Homo sapiens: one gene and its partners. The protein of the gene in region 1 purifies or fractionates together with the protein of each later gene. This does not show direct contact. Each region holds a gene or a part of one and is shown on either strand. Other genes may lie near its edges.

The links.
Region 2: the proteins of WDR11 (region 1) and EMX1 purify together in Homo sapiens (co-immunoprecipitation; one study listed by IntAct). This does not show direct contact.
Region 3: the proteins of WDR11 (region 1) and NAA40 fractionate together in Homo sapiens (co-fractionation; one large-scale study listed by BioGRID). This does not show direct contact.

Annotation. Positions count from the first base shown.
Region 1 is NC_000010.11:120,885,862-120,889,506, forward strand, and holds part of WDR11 (WD repeat-containing protein 11), read left to right. Parts: coding exon 1-77; intron 78-827; coding exon 828-975; intron 976-3,216; coding exon 3,217-3,323; intron 3,324-3,645. UniProt on the Homo sapiens protein: Involved in the Hedgehog (Hh) signaling pathway, is essential for normal ciliogenesis.
Region 2 is NC_000002.12:72,916,204-72,920,364, forward strand, and holds the start of EMX1 (homeobox protein EMX1), read left to right. Parts: upstream 1-1,315; 5' UTR 1,316-1,649; coding exon 1,650-2,169; intron 2,170-4,161. UniProt on the Homo sapiens protein: Transcription factor, which in cooperation with EMX2, acts to generate the boundary between the roof and archipallium in the developing brain. May function in combinations with OTX1/2 to specify cell fates in the developing central nervous system.
Region 3 is NC_000011.10:63,952,395-63,956,039, forward strand, and holds part of NAA40 (N-alpha-acetyltransferase 40), read left to right. Parts: intron 1-12; coding exon 13-171; intron 172-361; coding exon 362-445; intron 446-1,577; coding exon 1,578-1,655; intron 1,656-1,943; coding exon 1,944-2,085; 3' UTR 2,086-3,645. UniProt on the Homo sapiens protein: N-alpha-acetyltransferase that specifically mediates the acetylation of the N-terminal residues of histones H4 and H2A.

The DNA of each region.
Region 1 (3,645 bases):
GCAACTCGAGAGGCCATGGCCCGCCAGACCGTAGTCTCAGACACAGAGCTGAGTATTGTTGAATCATCTGTGATCAGGTACAGTACAGTGTTTCTTGACACTGTCATTTGTGCCATTAGCATCATGTCTGGGAAGTTGACAAGTATCATCGGAAGGTGTCTATGGTAGCAAGTTGGACTCTGCTTTTGAACATACTTAGTTTCATCTTTCAGTACATACCCAGATTACTAAAAAGATAATTTTATCATTTTTAGTATTGTACTATACTGTTTGTTATAACTAATAACATATGCAGTAATATTCACCCATCAGCATCTAGTAGTAAATGTGCTCATTCCGAGTGCCCTTCTACTCCATACACTTCAGCTTCTGAAATTCAAATGAACATAGCATAGACATACAGATAGATCATATTATCATTTATACACACCAAAGAAAATGTGTTGGGAATCCTAAATTTGTGTATCATCCCCATCCATACCAATCTTACAGATAAAAGGCTTCAGAGATAATGTTGGGTCACTGTACAGCCTCCCTTCTGTTGAGCACAGTTCTATAGCCAAAATCTCTATGAATTTTATTTTTCTTGTGTTAAGTTTAGATCACCATTTCTCTCTGTGCAGGGTAAACTTCCTCTGATGTTGTGGCTGTTAAGGAGTGATTCATGTTTACCCATAATTAGCTGGGCAAATATTAGTTTCAGACTTTTAAAAAAATAGTTTTGGACCTCCTCTTAATGCGTCTGTACTTTGGGCAAGTTAATTAATTATGAGTATCACTCTAGGGGAAAAAAAAACATCTTTATCATATGTTTCACTATCCCAAAGCTTGCTGCAGGAGGCAGAAAGTAAATCTGAACTTAGTCAGAACATCTCTGCCCGGGAACATTTTGTATTTACCGATATTGATGGCCAAGTGTATCATCTCACTGTTGAAGGAAACTCAGTAAAAGACAGTGCTCGGATTCCACCAGATGTGAGTACAACCTTGATTAAATCTTCATCAAGAAGATTTTGTTTTGTTGGTTCCATATCCAGTGAAGGCATAGTTAAGTTGGAAACTTCAGAAAAGCCTAATGTAAATAAACTTTATTTAAGGAGATATTATCGATTAAACTTGTTCCATACTGCTAGAGAATAACGCTGTAACTATTTTGATTAAATGTTTACTGTGTGCTACTCATTTTTATCCCTGTAATAATCCATGAGGAGTTATCTCCATTTTACCCATAACAAAACTGTGGGAGAATAAGTAACTTTCCCAAAGTTATCCAGCTTACTCATATGGCAGAGCAGTGTTTTAAACTCAGGCCTGTCTGACTTCAGTATCTGTCTTCTTTCCATTTCAGGCATTACCCTGAAGGATTTGACTTACAATCTAGTATTATTTTTGGATAATAGTAATCAGGTTGTAAGTGTAATAGTATTATTAACATTTACTAACTTACATATATTCTTATGGCCTTGTGGAATCTGTAACTAAAGTTTTGCCATTAATCATTTGTGTCAGCATGCATCTCATAGATAGTTTTTAATAGATGGATCATGAAAATGTTTATGTTAATTAATGCAGGCTATTATAATGGTTAAATGAAGGCATGAGGGGATTTTTTAAAATAGGTATATTTATTTTAAATTGCTATCTAAAAATGGAATGCTCTAGTAGAATGCCAACCCCCATAATTTTATAGGTGGCTTTGGGGTCTCATAAAGTTACAATCTAGATGTTGGCTGTGGCTACAGTCTTTTGAAGTGTAATGGGACAGAAGGATCTATTTCCAAGTTGGCTGCCTCACAGGCTATTGCACATTAATGCTGGCTGTTGACGAGGGACCTTAGTTCTTCATGTCGATCTTTCCATAAGGCTGCTTGAGTGTCCTCACGACATGACAACTGGCCTCCCCTAGAGTAAGTGATCTGATAAAGCAAGAAGGAAGTTGCAGAGTCTATTATGACCTGGTTTCAGAAGTCTCTTCAAAGGCAACTTCTTAATTAAACATTCTATTTTATGGCTAGGAAAGTAGATATCTTAAAATGTTGCTTCATATTATATACAGAATTTCATTTCTTTAATATTTTTTTTTATTAATGGACTTTATTATAATATTGATTTTTAAATCCAGTTTTTGTTTTGTTTCTTGACTATTACCAGAGTTTTTACGGTATTCAGTGTGTGTGCTAGTCCACTAATGGTCAATTATTCAAACCACTAGAGTTTTCTTACTTTTTACCATGGATACCATTTGAATTTTTATGTTGTACAATAAATGCAAAAATAAAATTTCTTTTAATAAATAGAGAAGTAATTGAGCAGTAATATTATTTAATAGCTAACATGTATTGACTATTTACTGCATGGCAGGCATTGCTTTAAGGCCTTTGCCTTTATAAATTTATTAATACTAGCAACAACTCAAGTTTCATGAACTTACCCTACTTTATGGACAATAAATCCAAGACAGAAAGGTTAAGTAAACATGCCTCAAATCACATACCAGTTTCAAGCTGGGATTCAAGCCCAGGCAGTGTGACTGCAGAGCCCAGGCTGCTGAGCCCTCCATGATACCACCTCTGAGCATCTATTAGAACTGCAAGTTCCTTTCTTCCTCCAAGTTAGATTGACTACAGCAGCATTTCATTCTTATGTTGTGCTTCTATATGTAACTTCTGAGCAAAGCTTTCTGTGAATTTAAACTGCATATGCCTTTAGTAAACAGCATCTCTTCACCTTCATGATTCCACAATGTTCCAAAACGTGTCAGTGAAGCTCTGGATCCTTTTTTCAATAGAAAAATCACGGCACAATTAGTTATAAAAGAGCTTTAAGTTTCCCTTGGAATGGATTTAGTTATCCTTTTGCAGTGAGAGATAAGTTTGAGTTGGCTCTCTGGAAAACCTTCCCTTTACTTCTCTGTTTTTCTTACTTTAATTTCCCCCTTTTTTTTTTGAGGTATTTGTTCCTCAAAAGACATCCCCTCTCTTTAAATCTAGTTCCAGTAACTACTTAATGTCTATGAAGTTGAAATCTCCTATTTCTTCATAGTTGAAATTGATAGGCAATGTAGCTCTTTGTTAGTGTCTAAAGTCTGTTTTAGGATTTGATGACTAAAAGCATACTAAAGCACAGCCCTTTAAATTAAGTTTTATTAAAATATTTATTATAATGTCTTATACAGCATAGTGAAATTTATATTTGTTTGTTGCTGTTGTTTTCTAGGGAAGTATGGGTAGTATTACCTGCATCGCTTGGAAAGGTGATACATTAGTGCTTGGAGATATGGATGGAAATTTAAATTTCTGGGACTTGAAAGGCAGAGTATCCAGGTATAAGCCAAGAATGAAATCTTGTTATTTCATTAAAAAAAAGAAATGAAATCTTTTTGTTTTGTTTTGTTGAGATGGTGTCTTGCTCTGTCGCCCAGGCTGGAGTGCAGTGGTGCAATCTCGGCTCACTGCAAGCTCTGACTCCCGGGTTCATGCCATTCTCCTGCCTCAGCCACCCGAGTAGCTGGGACTACAGGCACCCACCACCACGCCCGGCTAATTTTTTTGTATTTTTTTAGTAGAGACGGGATTTCACCATGTTAGCCAGGATGGTCTCGATCTCCTGACCTCGTGATCCGCCCACCTCGGCCTCCCAAAGTGC
Region 2 (4,161 bases), on another chromosome or scaffold:
CACGGCTCCCGGCGCTCAGGCGGGCCGCTGCCAAGACCCGGCCTGGAGTCCCCGCAGAGTTGCGCGGCGCACGGACCCCGTGGCCTTGGGGCGTCAGGAGGCCCAACCCAGATCTGCGCGCCCAGGCAGCGCTCAGGCCGCTAGAATGGACCCCGGCAGCGGCGAGGAAGCGGAACTCTCTGCGGCTCCCTCTCCGCAGTGCGCCGGCAAGGTCCAGGTCCCAGCCTCCCCACCGCCGCCCGCGCCCTCCTAGGCCTCGGAGCGGCGCCTTTCTGCGGCCTCGAAGGTGGGGTGGGAAAGTTTGGGGAGTCCCGGCTCTCACAGCCTGTCGTGAGAACTGCCCCCGGGGAATTCGTCCGCCGTACGGAAAAACTGGCCGGAGCAGAGTCGTCCGCGGTTCCGCGGTCGCGGGTGGAAGGTGAAGGTCGAGGGAGGTCAGGCTGCTTCTGCGTGTCCTGACGGCTGGCGTGTTCTCTTGAGATGGGCTCGGGCTACTTGGCCAGCTTCAATTTAAGCCACAGTGTCTCCGAGGCCCTGACCTGGTCCGGCCCGCCGACACTTGAGCCCCCAGAGCCTCAGAGAAGGCGAGGGGGTGGATCTCCCAGTGCCGAGGCCCGCCGTCCTGGTCCAAGCCGGTCGCGGCACCGTGTCTGGGCACTGGAGCTGCTTCCAGCCCCGCGAACAGCTGGAGGGTGGCAGTGGGACCGCTCCGGCGGCTTCTCCCGCGCAGTGCCCCGCCTGGCCCCTTGTGAAGGGAGTGAGCGTCCCCTTTCCAGAGCTGTCCCCCGTGACATCCAGAAAACGCGAAACCTCAGGAACAAGGTCGCAGCTTCAGACCGCGGCCCAGGAGGCCGATGGTGGGTGAGTGGGAGAGTCCCGGAGAGCAGGGGGGCAGAGAGCTGGTTTTCGGGAAAACCAATGTGTTGGACCCCAAACATCCACCCTCCGCTCGGATCCAAGTTCTCTGAGAACTGAAACGACATCCCGGGACGAATGGGAGAGTTAGGCTGAGCTACACACCGGGGAGGGGAGGGTTGGAGTTTAGCCCCAAGCCCTTCGGACGCCTTCTTCGGCTCCCGCGTGGGTTGAGACGGCGGCACGGCCACCAGACTCAGCTAAAGGGCGGAGTCGCGAGGAGAAGCCAGTGGCGAGGGGAGGAGGAGGCCTGGATCTCCCCGCGAAGGCTCCAGTCCGGCTTTTGCCTCCGACTGCGGGCTCCCTCCCCACCCGCCGTCCCTCGCCCCGCCCCGCCCCGCCCCCCACCTTGGGGCAGGTGAGCGGCGGCCAATGGGCGAGCGCGGGGCAGGTGCCCGCTAACTCGCGCCTCGCAGCGCTGGGCGGCCGGGGCTGGGCAGGGCAGTGCGGGGACACCGGGGGCTGGGGTCGGTCCCAGCGGGACTCCGAAAGGAGGGAGACGAGCTCAACCCTCGGGCCTTACTGGCAGCTCGCAGCCTAGCACGGAGCCCGCGCCTGTGCGGGCGCCTGGAGCTGCCCGCTCCGCCGCAGCAGCCGCCGCGCCTGGCCGTACGCTGTGGCCGGACCCCGCGGTCGCTCGCTCACACACCCCTCGCCGCTCCGCGCCTGGCTCGCCCGCGGGGGCCGAGCGCGAGCGGGCGGGCGGGGGAGGTGAGGGGTGCGGGCGGGTGTGCATGTGCCTGGCTGGGTGCACACCCCGCAAGGCGGCGGCGCCAGGACGCGGAGCGCTCCCCAGAGCCCGGCTGCCTCGCACAGCTCCCGCGGCTGCGACCATGTTCCAGCCCGCGGCCAAGCGCGGCTTTACCATAGAGTCCTTGGTGGCCAAGGACGGCGGCACCGGCGGGGGCACTGGCGGCGGGGGCGCGGGCTCCCATCTCCTGGCGGCGGCCGCCTCCGAGGAACCGCTCCGGCCCACGGCGCTCAACTACCCTCACCCCAGCGCGGCCGAGGCGGCCTTCGTGAGTGGCTTCCCTGCCGCGGCCGCCGCGGGCGCGGGCCGCTCGCTCTACGGTGGGCCCGAGCTCGTGTTCCCCGAGGCCATGAACCACCCCGCGCTGACCGTGCATCCGGCGCACCAGCTGGGCGCCTCCCCGCTGCAGCCCCCGCACTCCTTCTTCGGCGCCCAGCACCGGGACCCTCTCCATTTCTACCCCTGGGTCCTGCGGAACCGCTTCTTCGGCCACCGCTTCCAGGGTGAGTGTCCACGCTGTGCCCGCCGAGGCGGCCGGCCGGCGCCCGTGCTGCGGCGATGCGGGGGAGGCTCGGGGGCGCGCGGGGCTGTTTAGAAGTTACTGCCGGGAAGGCTGCAGGTCCGCGGAGGTAGATTCCCAGGCAGGGAAGAGCTGTGCGGCATCCACCCGCGCCTTCGCCGCGTAGGTCTCCCTCCCAGGAAAGCAGGTGGAGACCTCCAGGCTTTTCTAGAAAATATACCAGTTCGGACGCAAGCCCAGGCGCGTCCTCGGAGCCTGTGCTGGCCCTCGCCACAGCCTGCCCAATTCTCTCTCCCAGCTGAGCCAGTCTCAGACCAGAGTACAACTCCTCCCGCTCTCCCTCCGCCCGGCTTAACCTCGCACCACGCTTCTCTCGCAAGTCCACCACCACCTCCGAGACCTCAGCCTTCGCTGGCGCGTCCGGGCGGGGGAAAGTCCATTCGCGTGCCCCAGCTCTGGGGGAAGCAAGGGCAGCAGGGAGGGCGAATCGGAGAGTTAATGTTCAGTGTGGAGGGCCTGGCTGTCTTGGGATGTTTCTCGGCAACCTTGGCCCGACTTCTCCAAGTCACACGTGCCTCTCCTACCCAAGGTGGGGAAGGTTTGCAGTAAGCAAACTGGCTTCCGCCGTTGCTCGCCGCCTTCGGGAGGGAGCCCACCCGGCTGCTGGAATACCGAGGACAGTTTTCCCGGGCAGGGGGCGGGGGCAGAGGGCTTTTAAGGTCGTAGCCAGTCCGAACCCCGGAGTTTGCATCCAGCAATCGGCTTGCTAATAAAGATCCTCCACTGGCCCTACACACACACACACACACACACACACACACACACACACGTTTCAATTATTTGTCTTTCCCGGAGAAAAGAGAGTTGCATTTGTTGGAGTTCGTTTTCTTCCTTGAAATTTGTTGGAGTTTGTTTTTTTCTTTTCTTTTTTTTTAAATTTTATTTTAAAGAGTGGCCTTGATTTGTACAGGCATCACTTTAGTTTCCAGTTTTATTTTGTTAGTGTAGACCAGACCACAGCCTTGTGAGAAGGGTCTATGGCTCAGAGCTAGGTAACCCGGCTTTTAGAGAAACAAATGAAAGGGACATGGCTGGAGCTTCGGCTCCAGGAGCTAATGTGACGGTCTGTAGTCTAGGTCTACAGTCAATTAGATGTTTGGCACAGTTGTTTAGATAATAAAATGAAAATTATCTCTTGACACTTTGACTTTCACAGAAAACCGCTTTCCCAGGTCCCGATTTGTCAGGCAATTTTTTCAGTCCCACCTGGCCAATAGATGCTGACCTGGCAGATACCACAAAACCAGAGAATGTAATTACTAGAATAAGAATTGTTGTGGGTAGCCTTGCCTCCTCTTTGAAGATTTCAAAGACTTGCCCAAATCCAAATCCGAAAAAACAAAAATGCTACAATGTCATCTGCCTTGGGCAAGAGTTTCTGCCACTTAAAAATAAATGTTTACTGATAACATGAGGATATCTTTAAAATTGAGCAATCTACCCTGGTCCTCCGTGGGCTCGATCCGAAGCCTGGGTCTCGAAACCTGGCGCCCAGGGGCCGAGTTGTAGTTGGGGCGGTGTGTGAGCCCGCGGGCCGCCGCGGCCGAGGGGCTGGCGGGTTGGAGGCTTGTGGAGGGATAGGGGCTCGGAGGAGAGGGCGGGGTCGTTCCTAAGTCCTGTGGCCTCCAGCCGTTCAGCTTGTCCGGAGTCGGCATCCTGGGCCGCACCCTCGGCTTCGAATCCAGCCCCTGACGCCCTCCGCACCGCGGTTCCTGCCTCCGGGCGCCGAGGGCCGGGGGCGCCTGGAGAGAAATCCAGCTCCGGCTCTGAGCGTCTCCAGTCAGGCGAGGCGGATAAATCCTTCGCAAAACCCTCTTGGAAATTGCCGCCGCTTCCTGAGCCATCAGTCCCAGCGGGTACGTTATCGAGTAGCACAAACAGTTGGATTTTTCCCTCAAGAACCGAGTCTGGACGC
Region 3 (3,645 bases), on another chromosome or scaffold:
CAAATTCCCCAGGTATGAGCAGAGCGAGTGGGGCTGGAAGGACCGAGAGAAACGGGAGGAAATGACAGATGACCGAGCCTGGTACCTCATCGCGTGGGAAAACAGCTCCGTCCCTGTTGCCTTTTCTCACTTCCGGTTTGACGTGGAGTGTGGGGATGAAGTCCTGTACTGGTAGGAGCCATGGCTTGGGGGAGGTAGGGGAGAGAGACCCTGGCGATGTTCCAGGCACTCCAGCCAGGTGACAAAGCCCCTGGACCTACCTAGGTCTATGAGCTGCCAAGGACTGCAAGCTCCTCTGCCAGACCTTACAGCCTCTTCATGTCCCATCCTGCACGCTCACCTCTCTGCTTTCTTCACCTAGCTATGAAGTGCAGTTGGAAAGCAAGGTGCGGCGGAAAGGCCTGGGGAAGTTCCTCATACAGATCCTGCAGCTCATGGCCAACAGGTAAGGCCTCCCTTCTTAGGAGGCCCATATAGCACTCAGTTGGAAGGAGCTGTCACTGAGGCACTTGCCATTCTTTGAGCCTTGTTGGAGGAGGAGGCTCATAGGCATGTTTTGGGAGAAAGGTGTCTTAGAACCCTCTCAGTAAGATGCTCCCTGCCTTATTATGACTCCAGATTTTGTTTGTTTAGCTCAGTGCAGTGAACATCTTTTTTTTTTTTTTTTTTTTGAGACAGAGTTTCACTCTTGTTGCCCGGGCTGGAGTGCAATGGTGCCATCTTGGCTCACTGCAGCCTCCACGTACCGGGTTTAAGCAATTCTTCTGCTCAGCCTCCCAAGTGGCTGGGATTACAGGCGCGCACTGCCATGCCTGGCTAATTTTTGTATTTTTAGTAGAGACGGGGTTTCTCCATGTTAAGGCTGGTCTCGAACTCCTGACCTCAGGTGATCTACCTACCTCAGCCTCCCAAAGTGCTGGGATTACAGGCATGAGCCACCACACCTGGCCAGTGAGCATCTTTTGAGTTTCTAATCTCTGCCACCTTCTGTACCGAAGTAATGGTGCTACAGAGAGGAAGTGGGAAACATCCTTGCTCTGGAAGAAGCCAGTCTGGTCAGGGCCGATGCCTGTGCAGTCTGATCAGCCTGTGATGGGGGAAGCAGTGAGTGCTGTGTGGGGGTCCAAGACCTCCAGAGGCTAGAGGCCAAATTCAGGAACACTCGTGTGGGTGAAAGGGAGGTAACAGACAAAGGCAGAAAGGAAAGGAAGCATGACCTTAGTCTCTGTGTCTTTTCTTTTTTGAGACAGGGTCTCACCCTGTCACCCAGGCTGGAGTGCAGTGGTGTGATCGTATCTCACTGCAGCCTCTACCTCCCAGGCTCAAGTGATCCTCTAGCCTCAGCCTCTGGAGTAGCTGGGACTAAAGGCACATGCCACTATACTGGGCTGATTTTTTTAAATTTTTAAATGTTTTGTAGAAATGGGGTCCCACTATGTTTTCCAGGCTGGTCTCTAACTCCTGGGCTCAAATGATCCTCCCACCTTTGCCCCTCAAAGTGCTGGGATTACAGGTGCATGCCACCATGCCTGGCCATGTTTCTCTTTCTAAAAGGCGTTTGCTCTGCTTTCTTCCAGCACACAGATGAAGAAGGTTATGTTAACAGTATTTAAACACAATCATGGTGCCTACCAGTTCTTCAGAGAAGCGTTGCAGTAAGGAGCTGGGTGTGGGCCCTTCTGGGTGGTAGGTGGGCCTGCCCAGGGCCATTTTTCTGGTCCTGGCCCTCACTCATTCTGATGCCTGAGCTCATGGTCCAGTGGTCCATGGGGGTTCAGGTTCAGGGAGATGGTATGGCAGTGCTCTCTGATTTGGTCCACTGTCCACCTCCTGCACCCTCATCCTAAGGGTCTCATCAGTGTGGCTGGTAGAAGAGTTCTCGGGCCAGGGAGGAAGGCACTCAGCTGCCTGCCACCAACCCTTTTCTCCTGCCTGCCTTGCAGATTTGAAATTGATGACTCTTCCCCCAGCATGTCCGGTTGCTGTGGGGAGGATTGCTCCTATGAGATCCTGAGCCGGAGGACCAAGTTTGGGGACAGCCATCACTCCCACGCGGGTGGGCACTGTGGTGGCTGCTGCCACTGAACTCTCAGAGCCACTTTCAAGTCACAATGCTCTCTCCTAAGGCCTTTCCTCTTTCCTGGTCTCACTGTTCACCGGGTGTCCTCAGAGCTGTGGCCTCCCCAGCCCTGCACGTGCCAGGCTGCGCCCTGAGAGCACAGAACCCTGGGGAGAAGTGGTATCAGCTGCTCCTCCTCTCCTAGGAGACCAGAGTGCTAGAAGGGAATGAAAGGGAGAGGGAAGAGTAGGTGGGGCCGGGCAGTGAAGCTCATCCTCCACAGTGGCTGCCTCCTCATTTGGCTCCTGGGGCCTGCAGTGGAGGTTCTCGCACCTCTGCAGCCCCTAGATTCCTGGCAACCTCCCCTCCCCTGACACATACACACTTGGACAAATGGAATGTTTATGTCCACCTTTATGAAAGTTCTGGAGTCCTGGGTCTGGGGTTTGCTGGTCCCCAAAGAGGAACACACTGGGTGTAAGATCTGGGTGTAGAGGGCGGCTTCAGAGAGACTCACGCTTGCGCAGTTGGAATTGCTGTTAACGGAGACTGGGAAGATCTTTTGTGCCAAGATGCAGGGAAATGAAGAAAGCTCTTTCCAGCTGTTTTTATGGATTCATGGAGTGGGCTCATGTTGGGACCAGCTGACTCTGGGAGGAAGACTGCCTCTCCATCGCTGTCAGAGAGCCTGAAAGGACCAACAATGAGGTGTTCTTGGGACCCGCCATGGGGATGATTGCTTCTCTAGGCTCCTGGATGTTGCTGCATTCTAAGCTTAACCTCCTGGTCTCATGGCAGTGACTTGAGCTTTTGATTCATAGAAGAAAGCCAGAGGTTCTGCTTGTTCTTGTCTGCCAGCCCTCGTCGTTCTTTCTCCTCTGCCTCTCACCTCTACCCCAAATACCTCTGTTCTTAGTCTCAAGGGGAGAATAACATCAGGGAGCCCCTCATCTTCCCCAGAAGGACTTCTCGTTCCTCATGTAGTTAACTCCATTGATTTTCCTATCTTGGTGCTGATAGCTCTCTAAGGGTAGGGCACACCTCCCCACAGCCACCCTCCCTCTTCAGAGAGCCCCCAGCCAGCAGCAGGCCCCTCTGCCTGCACTCCTCAGGCTTGCCCCTCGCTGCCTCAGTGAGGCACTAGTGCCACTGCCGTGGCCCAGCCGGGCCATAGCTCAGGCTGCAGCAGAAATGCCTCTCAGTGGCCAACAGTTGCTTTTCTCTCTGGTGTCACCCTGTGGCAACAGGCTGGAGCAGGGGAAGGAGAAAGCCTTCCTCTTCTCTCATAGGATAGAAAGGCAGGCTCAGAACTAATGCTCATCCTGATCTCTAGGCCTTGTTCCTCTTCCAGGGAAGAAAAGCCAAATCCTTATCAAGGAAAAAGCACCTAACAGCTCCCTTTGGATATCCCTGAGCTCTGCTGTGGGGAGTATCATAAAGGTTCTAGCCTTCGTGAAGTTGTTCTCGTGGAGGTCTGTTGGTCCCTCTGACCTCAGCATCTGCTCACATCCCACCCTCTGCCCAACTCTGGCAGTCTCTCCTGGCAGATCTCCCCAGAGTGGTCCTTGCTTCTCACCTGGATTCCT